3 linked regions of the Homo sapiens genome follow. The protein of the gene in region 2 interacts with the protein of the main gene of each other region in a pairwise test. Each region holds a gene or a part of one and is shown on either strand. Other genes may lie near its edges.

Region 1 (3,651 bases), on a different chromosome or scaffold from region 2:
ATTTGAGTTGGACAGAAGGATTTTCACGATGATGAGGAAGAAGGGTATTCATAGAAGAAGACACACGCACAGTCCCAGGGCTGGAAACATGCCTAATGTGTGTGTTAGCTTGAGAGCCTGGGGTTGTAGAGCAGAACTGTTGGCTGCCTTGCCAGGGAAAGGCCCTGCTTTCTCCCTCAGACACCTGCACTGCACCAGGAACTACATCCACCTGAACCTGTTTGCATCCTTCATCCTGCGAGCATTGTCCGTCTTCATCAAGGACGCAGCCCTGAAGTGGATGTATAGCACAGCCGCCCAGCAGCACCAGTGGGATGGGCTCCTCTCCTACCAGGTGTGTGGTGCATCCAGGACCGCCTCAGGAGGGATGGGCGGTTGGAGGAGGCCTGCCTCTGCCACCCTAGACAGGCCTGGGACAGGAGAAGACAAGAGCCGAACAGTCCTGGCCCTTCGGGAGCCCCCAGTCTGATGGGAGAGGCAGTTCGCCTTGGGACCCTCCAGTCTGCTGAGAGAGGCAGTCTACCTTAGGGAGCTCCCAATCTAAGGGAGGAGACACTGCCCTAGGGAATTCTCAGTCTGACACAAAAGAGTAGTCTTTGGAGACACACTTGAGTTTGAATGTCAGCTCTGTCACTTACTATCTGTACACTTTTAGGCAAGTCACTTACTTCTCTGAGGCTGAGAAATAGGTGAGAAGTCACTTACTTCTCACCTGCAGGGGGATACATTACTTTCTTCCAATCAGGATAGTGAGGATTCAATGAGCTAAAGCAGATAAAGTCCTTAGCACTAGCCCTAGCCAGAGATGTGAGCTCTCTCCTCCTGCATTAACCATGGCAGGATAGTGGCTGGAGCAGGACGGGGAGTGGTATCAAGAGAGGCAGAGGGCAGAGCTGTTGTCCCCATGACACCCTTCCTCTACCCCCAGGACTCTCTGAGCTGCCGCCTGGTGTTTCTGCTCATGCAGTACTGTGTGGCGGCCAATTACTACTGGCTCTTGGTGGAGGGCGTGTACCTGTACACACTGCTGGCCTTCTCGGTCTTATCTGAGCAATGGATCTTCAGGCTCTACGTGAGCATAGGCTGGGGTAAGAACCGCCATCACCCACCCTGGACCTGTGGCACGGGGGTGGGAGACCTTGACCCCTCTTCTAACATGGTACTTGGAACGCACTGCTGAGCAAGGGGCAAGGCCCACTGGGTAACCCTCTTCCTGGGCACAGGACCTTCTGCCCCGGTGCTGTTAAGATGCCGTAGGGGGTTATGGTCCTCCCCTCCTCTGCATAACTCTCCTCCCTTAATGGAAGCCTCCACCGCATGTGGCCAAACACCACCCTCTACCACTATCATGCACACCACTGGAGGTCATGGCACTGTTCTCTTAAGACCACATGGGGACATAAGTTCACACCCAGTCCCGGGCAGCCCGAGGGCCTGAGGGAAATGGTGAGTCCTGGGCCTCAAGGTGGGGAGGGGATCAAGAGGGTAGGGGGCTGGCTGGGGGGAGCCTGCTGGTGCTCTGTCACATGACGATGAAGAGGAGGGCTCAGAGGAGAGCCAAGTACAGTGGGGCAGGGGGGCCAGAGGCCAGCCAAGGAAAGGGTGGACGGCGGATGTGCCTGGAGCCCAGCTGGAAATGTTCTAGCCAAAAAAGTTTGCCAAGAACCATTGTGTCTTTTTTTTTGCTGGAACATTTCTGGTTGTGCTTCTGCCTCTCACCACGTGGGATTGTAATGAGGGGCAGCATTGGGGTTGGGAAGGGGGCTGGGATCCCCTTCACCCCTGGGAAAACATGCAACAGGCCTTTCTGGAGGGACCCACGGTACCCAGAGAATAGGCCCTGCCCTCTGTCCTCCCTAATCTGCCATTGAATCCATGAGTTTTCCTGTTCCACACCATCCCCCGCCCTGCTTGCCACTCCTTCATTCACTCCTCCTTCCTTCATGCGCCCACCTCACGCTGCTCTGACCACGGCTGCCCCTGCCACGGACCTCCGGGGACTTTCCAGCTCAGTCACATCCAGACTCCTCTTCCCTGACAATGGTCCTGTCCCTGAGCCTTTGCAAGGCTGTTCTCCATGCAGGAATGTTCAGGGAGCATCCTTCCCACACCAGGGTGTCCGCTGCCTCTTCAGGAAGCTGCCTCAGGCCACCAGTCCTCGTGGTTCTGTGCTCTCTGCCCTCTCAAGCTCTCCATCCCCTGTCCTTGCACTTCATTTATTTTTACTGGTGTTCCTCAGCCATTTTTCTCTATACAGCTCCCCCCACCCCCCAGGAGAAGAGTAGCCTGAGAGATTTTAATGTGACCAGTGTCTTGAGGACACCAAGGCCCAGAGCTGGCAGGGCCTTACAGGCAGAGCAGGCCCTGGAACCCAGGCCTCCTGACTCCCAGGCTCTGGGCCTGCGGCCATCATGCCCTGTTCTCTTGCCTGGGCTGCATCCCTTCAGTCCCCTGCAGCACCCCTGAGCAGGCTCAGGCCTCTGCACAGGTGGGCAGGTAGGCCTGGCTCCTGCTCACAGATCCCTGCTCCTCACCTGCCTCCTCCACTCCCAGAACCCAGTCCCTTCCTTGGCCTTTTCTCCCCGAGGCTTCTTCCTCCTGCTAGAGCAGGAGGAGGGAGGCCATCGAGGGCAGCTCAGGGAAGGCTGTCTTCAGGGTGGGGGACGGTGTCTGTCCATTCTAGGAAATAGCATCAGCGCTGTTAGTGCCTGTCACCATGGCGACCCGAGGGCAGGAACAATCAAGGGACGTGTGTGATGTGTGCAGAGGAGCGGGGGTGGCTGGAGTTTGGTGGGGACACACTGCCCTAGAGGTCTCTGAGTGGGAGATGGGGGAGGGAGTGCCAAGTCCTTTTCCTACCACCTCACACCCTAGCTCAGGGCTCGGGGTCTGTGGGAGCACAAGGGCAAGACCCGGAGGACACCCTGCTCTAATCAGAACACCTTTTTCTTGAGGATTGGGGTGGGGGAGACGGAGAGAGATTCACAGGTTGCTAGGAGCTCAGACGTGATGCCAGGAGGCCTTGCCCAAGCTGGGATACTTGGGAAACAACTTTCAGCTTCATGTGCAAGTGGAAGAATTAAAATTAGGACTCTGACACAGTTGGAGAGGTCCCCCAAAGGGCATGGCAGCTTCTGCTGCAGTCCCCAGGCAGTTGGGGGCCTGTAGAAACCCACATGGAGGCTGTGCAAGAGGGAGGCAAATGATGGTTGAGGGAATCATTACTTCCTGGAGCCAGTTGTGTGTGTCTTAATTTGAGCTTTTTTCTCCAACCTGTCTTGCTCGTTTTCTAAATGGGAGAAAGATGAAGCCAGCAGGGAGTGCGTAATGTTTGCATGCAGCAGGGCTTTCGTGACTGTGTTTTTTGAAAAGGCCTTGTTAAGGAAATGCTGACGATGAGTGAAACTTGCCAGGTCTGGCTGATAACATGGGTGAGTGCCCTGATCCTGGAAGGAGGTCTCAGAGAGAAGGGACAGCAGGGGGCGAGGGATACCCAGAAGGAAGCTTCTGCATGTGTACGTGGTTCAGGAAATCGGCATGCTCTTGCCCAGACAATGTTCCTTCCCTTATTGGTGTGTTGACTCACCCATCATTCGTTCCATTCTCACTGGGCATCTTCTATGTGGCAGGGCCTGTACCATGTGCTGGGGC
Region 2 (3,651 bases):
CAACCTCCAAGGCTCCAGAAATCCTCCTACCCCAGCCTCCTGAATGGTTGGGACTACAGGCATGCACCACCACATCCCGTTAATTTTTGTATTTTTTGTAAAGATGGAGTTTCGCCCTGTTGGCCAGGCTGATCTTGAACTCCTGGGCTTAAGCAATCTGCCTGCATAGGCCTCCCAAAGTGCTGAGATTACAGGGGTGTGCCACCACACCTGGCCCAAATTATTTGGTTTTAAACACTTGTTAGATTCCTAAGTGAATGGTAGGTATGGTAGAGAACTCCTCTGCCATTCTCCTATTGCAATCCACACCCACACATATCTCCACCTCCCCTAATACACATAAAAGCACACTACATATACAAGTTTTGTTTTGAGTATAGTTTTTTTCTTGTGGCTAAGTAATAAACCACTTTAAACTGATGTGTCTAGGAGGACGGCCATGATCTATCCAAATTTTCTTCTCTCCTATCTGGCATTTCCTACCATTTCATTTGTCCTTCGACTTTATGAGATTTATTATTAGGCCATAAAGATGTCATAATCCTGGAATAGAAAGGGAAAAGTCATCAACTACAACAGTTCCCAGAACATTCTCACTCACGGCAATATTAAACATCATAAAACTTCCTTTCTCACAATAGACCTTGGAAGCTGGGTGCTATCCTCAAGCTTTAGGCCAACAAATTAAAATAGAAAGAGGAGTTGAATGAAAATTAGAAAAAGTATAGTTTTTACTCAAGAAGTACCTCATATTTTTCTACACAAACCCAAATCTTCCCCAAAATCCCACGATTCCCTTCAGATTATGCTAACGCTCAAGCTGTACAGGAGAAAGAACTGTGGTAGAAAAGAAAAATAAAGCAAAAGAGAAGCTGGGAGAGAAAAATTATAAAATTCAATCATAATCTATTGAGAATAAAATTTAAAATTAACTACGAAAAAATTAAAAATAAAAACACTGAAAAAGGTTAAACATCTTACTGGAAAATGGTGAATGCTACATCATAAATCTATAAGAAGGTATTATACATAGTTAAAGAAAGGAAAAATAGCCAAGAAATAAAATAAGAAAGTAACAAGTGAAGGAATGGCAAAATTTAGAAATATGAAAGTAGACAAGATGTCAAAAAATTTTTAAAAGTCTTGAGGTCAGAGGCAAAATTTTGGAAGGGGATTTGGAGAAAGTTTGAACAAATGTAATGTACTTGTAATGTCCTTCACCAATCTAACATACTTCATGATTTTAAGAACATAAAATTTAACCTATATAACTTTTTGGTCATTAAAGTCATCATGCTAGGCAAATTAAAAAGTATAGTTGTCTCAGATTACTGCAATTTAAAAAATTTTAATTAACTACCAATTGCAGAACTTACTGACAGTTTATGAGAAACAAAAGAAGCTATACATTTCATTATATAACAAATGATGTTTACGGGTTTTTATTTTTTCCTGTCTAGTGGATTAAAAAAAGAAAAAATTTTTCAGATGCCAAGGAGCGGAAAGGAAAAGAAAACACTCACTGGATAAAGCTTGTGCTTCATACAGGTTGGTCTAATCAGCAAATATAAACATGAAGCATTGAGACCAAGGGTCTGGTGGCTACTGACCAGGTATATATGTTTAGGATAGTCTCTGAGCTTCAAATTTCATCTTTAAAATGAGGGAGTTGGATTAGAACATTATCTATGTCTGATTTAACATGATTGTTCAAAAGCTACTGTAAGCTGGGCGTGGTGGCTCACGCCTGTAATCCCAGAACTTTGGGACGCAGAGGTGGGCAGATCACAAGGTCAGGAGATCAAGACCATCCTGGCCAACATGGTGAAAGCCCATCTCTACTAAAAATACAAAAAAAATTAGCCGGGTGTGGTGACACGCACCCGTAGTCCCAGTTACTTGGGAGGCTGAGGCAGAATAGCTTGAACCCCTGAAGCAGAGGTTGCAGTGAGCTGAGATCGTGCCACTGCACTCCAGCCTGGTGACAGAGCAAGACTCCGTCTCAAAAAAAAAAAAAAAAAAAAAGCTACTGTAGTGGATGCTGTGGTTTTCCACCCAGACAGCTCCCTCCAAAGTCCTTCAAGAATGAAGCACTGATTCCTCCAGCTGCTGGGGCTATTGGTTGACAGTGCTTAGCTGCATCCCTCTCTAGGAATTGCCCTTGACCAAAGAGATCCACCCAACTCAAGGTTATACCCCATCCTGGGAGCAGGCTTGCATCCAATGTCTTACATCTAATGACTGGTCCATAAAGAGATGTAAAGGCTGAGCCCTCTTGCCTCAATTTGGGATATGGCTGCATGGCCATCCCAGCCCTAAAGCTCCTAATGGTGTCAGCTGAGGTCTCTGTGGCAATTGCATCACAGTTCAACTTCTCCCTTTGCCCGCCCAATCCTGCTTTCTTCTTTCCTTAATAGGTTGAACCTGAGAGCACAACCCAATAAACTTGATGCCCCAATAAATCTACATCTCAGGGCCTGTTTTTGCAGGAACCCAACGTAGGAGAAACCCTAAATACCTCTTACTTTTGTGAAAACATCAGTGCCTCCTGGAGACACACTTTTATTTTGAGATTTGGACTGTAGTTCTTGTTCTCAGTAATCAGGAATTATGAAGCCAGCAATATTGTCCAATAATTATTTTTATAAACCATTCTAAAATTATTTCAGAGTAATAAGGATTAGGTAGAAATATAGAAATGCTACATATTAAGATGTTCATTCACTATTTTAACAGTAAAAATGTATATTATACTGTAATTTTAAAAAATAAATGAGTGAATTTTTTAAGCCTTTGATTCTCTAAGAAAAATAAATGCTAGCACTAATAACTGAAAAATAGAGAAAGCTACTAGGATGGGGAAAAGTTAAGCAAAAATACAGAAAGTAAAAGATTTTACTAATAATAAGAGGCAAAAAACAAAGCACTCTTAAGGAGGAGCTGATTAAATTAAAAAGTGAAATACAAATGAAAGAAAGTATTACATTTGTACAAACTCAGAATTACGGAAAAAGAAAATTAAAATAAGTACATAATAAATGCCATTGCTCAAAATGCTTATATCTCATTAAATTAACCAAAGTTTTTATAATCTTTCCTGAATTTGATATTCTTTTCTTTTAAGGTGTTCTTTCAAGAACTTTGGTGTTTTTATTTTTCTTTCCCCAATTTCCTTTTTCTGTCCTATTGTTTTTCCCTCTAGTGTATACAGATTTCTACATGTCCAGTACATTTCCAGTGAGATAAGCCAATACACTTCTCTGTCATTGAGGTACCTCTCTTGTCCGCTTTATACTTTTGTCTCTTTCTTGCATAAGTCAATTTCTTCTGATAAAAAAAAAAAAAGAAAAAAAGAAATTTGAAACTGACCTTGAAGAGGCAGTTTGGTAAATAGACACATATTCTCTAACATGAGTTCAACTGGCTCCTTCACAATTCAAAAATGAATTGTCTACCAAACAAAGTAGATGTTTCAGAGATACGCCAAGCTTGGCAACAGGAGAAATCATGGACGCTGCTAAAGCAGCAACAGCTGATTTCATAGTCATGGAATGATCCTGCACCTGATCCCTGTCAAGATAACAGAGGGTCTTATTTACTGTCTCCAGCTTTGGTCCGTCTAAGTAGGTACTGTTTTCTGTTTACTTATCC
Region 3 (3,340 bases), on a different chromosome or scaffold from region 2:
AGAGCAAAACTCCGTCTCGGAGGAAAAAAAAAGAAATCACGCAGTGAGTCCCATAGAAGAGAATGAATCCCACAGAAAGCAGGCGGCAGGTCCCATAGAAAGCCGGCAGCGGTTCCAGTGGCGAGCAGGCCTAAAGGTGGTGATGGACTTTGCCTCTTGGGTGGGGGTCAGGGGTCTTGAGCCCACACTGCCCGCAGAAAGCAGGCGACCGGGAAAGGCTGGGAGGGGGCAGGCGGATGCCCGCCCCTGTGGGTGGCGGCGCAAAGCCCCTCCGACCTGTATGTCTCTGCCTCGCAGACACGTTCGCCAGCAAGGTGGCGGCGCTGCAGGACCAGTGCGCCGACGCGTCCATCGGCAACGTGACCGGCTCCAACGCGGTGAACGTGTTCCTTGGCCTGGGCGTCGCCTGGTCTGTGGCCGCCGTGTACTGGGCGGTGCAGGGCCGCCCCTTCGAGGTGCGCACTGGCACGCTGGCCTTCTCCGTCACGCTCTTCACCGTCTTCGCCTTCGTGGGCATTGCCGTGCTGCTGTACCGGCGCCGGCCGCACATCGGCGGCGAGCTGGGCGGCCCGCGCGGACCCAAGCTCGCCACCACCGCGCTCTTCCTGGGCCTCTGGCTCCTGTACATCCTCTTCGCCAGCCTGGAGGCGTACTGCCACATCCGGGGCTTCTAGGGCCTCGCGCAGAGACTCGTCCCCACCGCCCGCCCGGGGCTAGGGACTCGGCTGCACCTGCTCTTGGACCCTGGTCTCCTTTTCCCCCCAGACTCGGCCTCCTCTCCTGGGACTCGGCCTCCCTTCTCCGCCCCCTCCCCTGGCTTTGATTGCCCTGTTCTGTGTCCCCAGTAGCTCAGCCTTCCCTCTTCCTCTCGGGAGCCTCCCCGGTTCCTCCCCTGCGGTGACCCCAACTCCAGCCCATCCTGTTGGTGACCGTCTATATCCCTGGGGAAATTTCCACCCCAGTCCCCTCCCCAGGGAACCACCCCCAGTAACCATCCTGGGGAGTTTAAGGTCTCTCTCCTTGGTCACCCAGCCTGGCTTTGCCCCCAAAGTCTCCCTTCCCCTAGTGACCCCCCCCCCACTTCACCCCATGTCCCAGAGCCTCAGAACCCACCCTCCCTGGGGGACCCTCGAAGGAGGCTGTCAGAGGCCGTCTCAGCTCCCAGCCCTTCCCCCCAGCCCTCAGGGAGCTCCGCTCAGCCCCGGCGGGGAGGAGCGGGTGGGTGTGCGCGCAAGGAGGCCGCACACCGTTCCTTCCAATCCCTCCACTCGGGTTCTTGGGAGGACACTCATTCTCCAGGCTCGGAGACGAGGGGAGAAGTTTGGGGTTTCAGTCCCAGGGCTTAGCCGGAGGAAGCACATTTTGAACCTGCAACTTCAGACATTCCAGCTCCCCCACTCGCCCTCCACTACCTCTGAGAGCCCAGCCACGCCTTGGAGGGAGGGGCTTGTGTGTGTATATAGTGTGTTTGGGGGAGGGGGGACGCGGGAGGGTGCATGTCTTGGGAAAAGGGGGTGACAGACAACTTTTGAGAGGGCAGCAGACTCCCTCAGCCATGAGAACCAGCTTTGGGGAGGAGGCCGGGAATCAAAGCGAGTCCAGTTGATCTCCCCTGACAATCTGGAAGGTTCCTTTTGCCCTCAGTGCCAGCCAATCCGGGCAGGACCCTCGAAGAGGAGACCGAGGGTCCCAGAGGACCAATGCTACAAGCCAGCAAATGCTGCCACATCTCTGCCTGATGGGGGGTGGGGATGGGTGGGGGGATGGGACTGGGCCAAGGGATCTGGGTGGGCATTTTTAACTTTGGAGGCCTTCCATCTGTCGGTAGGCCATCTGCATTTTCTTACTGTTGATGTTTCCTGCCCAAAGGACACATTTGGGCAGTGCCACCCACTCCTTGGGCCCCTAGGATGACCCAACTACCCCCATAACTTTCTGCTTCCCACAGGTTTTCAGCATTCTATCGTCCTGTTGTGCTCAGCCCCAACATCCCAGACCCGTTACCCACTACCCTTCTCTCCCCCAGCTCATCATCAGTCGCTGTCTCTTTTCTGTGATTTCTGTAAAAGTTGCCATAAAACTTTGAAATTCTGCCTGAAAAACAGTCCCGTGGGAAGCTGGGATTCAGGAGGAGGGGGCTAATAAGGTCTCTGACTGAGATTTGGGCAACTGTTAAACCAAGTAATCTGGGTTTTTGCGGCCCGCGGTCGTCTGCGGGACACACCCACATATAGCAGCAGCGCCGGGGTCCAGCCGCCAAGCTCTTCCACTCGCCACGCCCCCATCAGTAATGAGCTTCCACTAGCCACGCCCCCATCCGTCAGCCTAGCTCTTCCACTAGCCACACCCCCATCCATCAGTCATGGGCTTCCACAAGCCACGCACCTCCACTCTCCATGCCCCCATTCGTCAGTCGTGGGTTTCCACTAACCACGCCCCCATTCATCAGCCAAGCTCCTCCACTTGCTACGCCCGCATCCGTCAATTACGGGTTTCCACTAACCACGCCCCCATTCATCAGCCTAGCTCTTCCACTAATCACACCCCCACTTATCAGTCGTGCTTCAGCCACGCCTTCCTGCTTCAGTCAGGGGCTTCCACTAGCCACGCCCCCATGCATGAGCCACAAACTGTTTCTCTTTATGGGCATCCTGGGAACACAAAAGAGAGACGTTCATTTGCCTGAGCCAAAGAGCTGGGGTTGATGGGGTTTCCTAAATAAAGCAAGTAATTTTCTCAGATCCTACAGGAGGAGGGGTGTGTGTGTGTGTGTTGTGCCAAAGGACACAGCCTGTGTAAAGGTGTGCAGAGTTGGGAGATAATGGCTTTTTCAGAGCCCTGGAAATGGTTATCATGAACGAGGTATGGGGTGCGTGGGGAGTGAACTTGAGGACAAATCATAAGAGACTTTATCAGCCACTCTAGGGAGCTTGGAATATATCCTAAGAGTAAAGGGGAGCTTTGCAAGGGATTTAAGTGGGGGAAGGAGGCAGGCGGTTGATATCACCTGATTTATTTTATGAGACGTTCCTCCTGGCTACTGGGGGCTGGGAGACCAGGGACAAGGCTGGAGCAGGGACAGAGGCAGCAGACGAGGGGAGAGGGGAGTAGGAGGGTGGGAGGGCGATGGTGAGAAGGGAGTGGTTGAGAGAGAGAATGGATGGGGCTGCGTGAGGGAGTTCAGGGAGTGCATCTTGGCAGGAGAGAGGTGGTGTGTTCATTCAAACGGAGTAGCCAGGGAGAGTTGGGTGAAAGGGCTACTGAGGAGTGGGCAGGGTTGGGGAAAACGAGGGAAGGTGTAGTACCCCAGGGCTAGCAGCAGAGGGAGCAGTTGCCATAC

Evidence for each region.
Region 1: the proteins of GPR37 (region 2) and GLP1R interact in a protein complementation assay, tested with the Homo sapiens proteins (one study listed by BioGRID).
Region 3: the proteins of GPR37 (region 2) and SLC8A2 interact in a two-hybrid assay, tested with the Homo sapiens proteins (one large-scale study listed by BioGRID and IntAct).

The regions. Positions count from the first base shown.
Region 1 is NC_000006.12:39,072,682-39,076,332, forward strand, and holds part of GLP1R (glucagon-like peptide 1 receptor precursor), read left to right. Parts: intron 1-180; coding exon 181-334; intron 335-928; coding exon 929-1,088; intron 1,089-1,632; exon of another isoform or gene 1,633-1,700; intron 1,701-3,651.
Region 2 is NC_000007.14:124,759,151-124,762,801, forward strand, and holds part of GPR37 (prosaposin receptor GPR37 precursor), read right to left. Parts: intron 1-3,651.
Region 3 is NC_000019.10:47,427,423-47,430,762, reverse strand, and holds the end of SLC8A2 (sodium/calcium exchanger 2 precursor), read left to right. Parts: intron 1-297; coding exon 298-674; 3' UTR 675-2,746; downstream 2,747-3,340. UniProt on the Homo sapiens protein: Mediates the electrogenic exchange of Ca(2+) against Na(+) ions across the cell membrane, and thereby contributes to the regulation of cytoplasmic Ca(2+) levels and Ca(2+)-dependent cellular processes.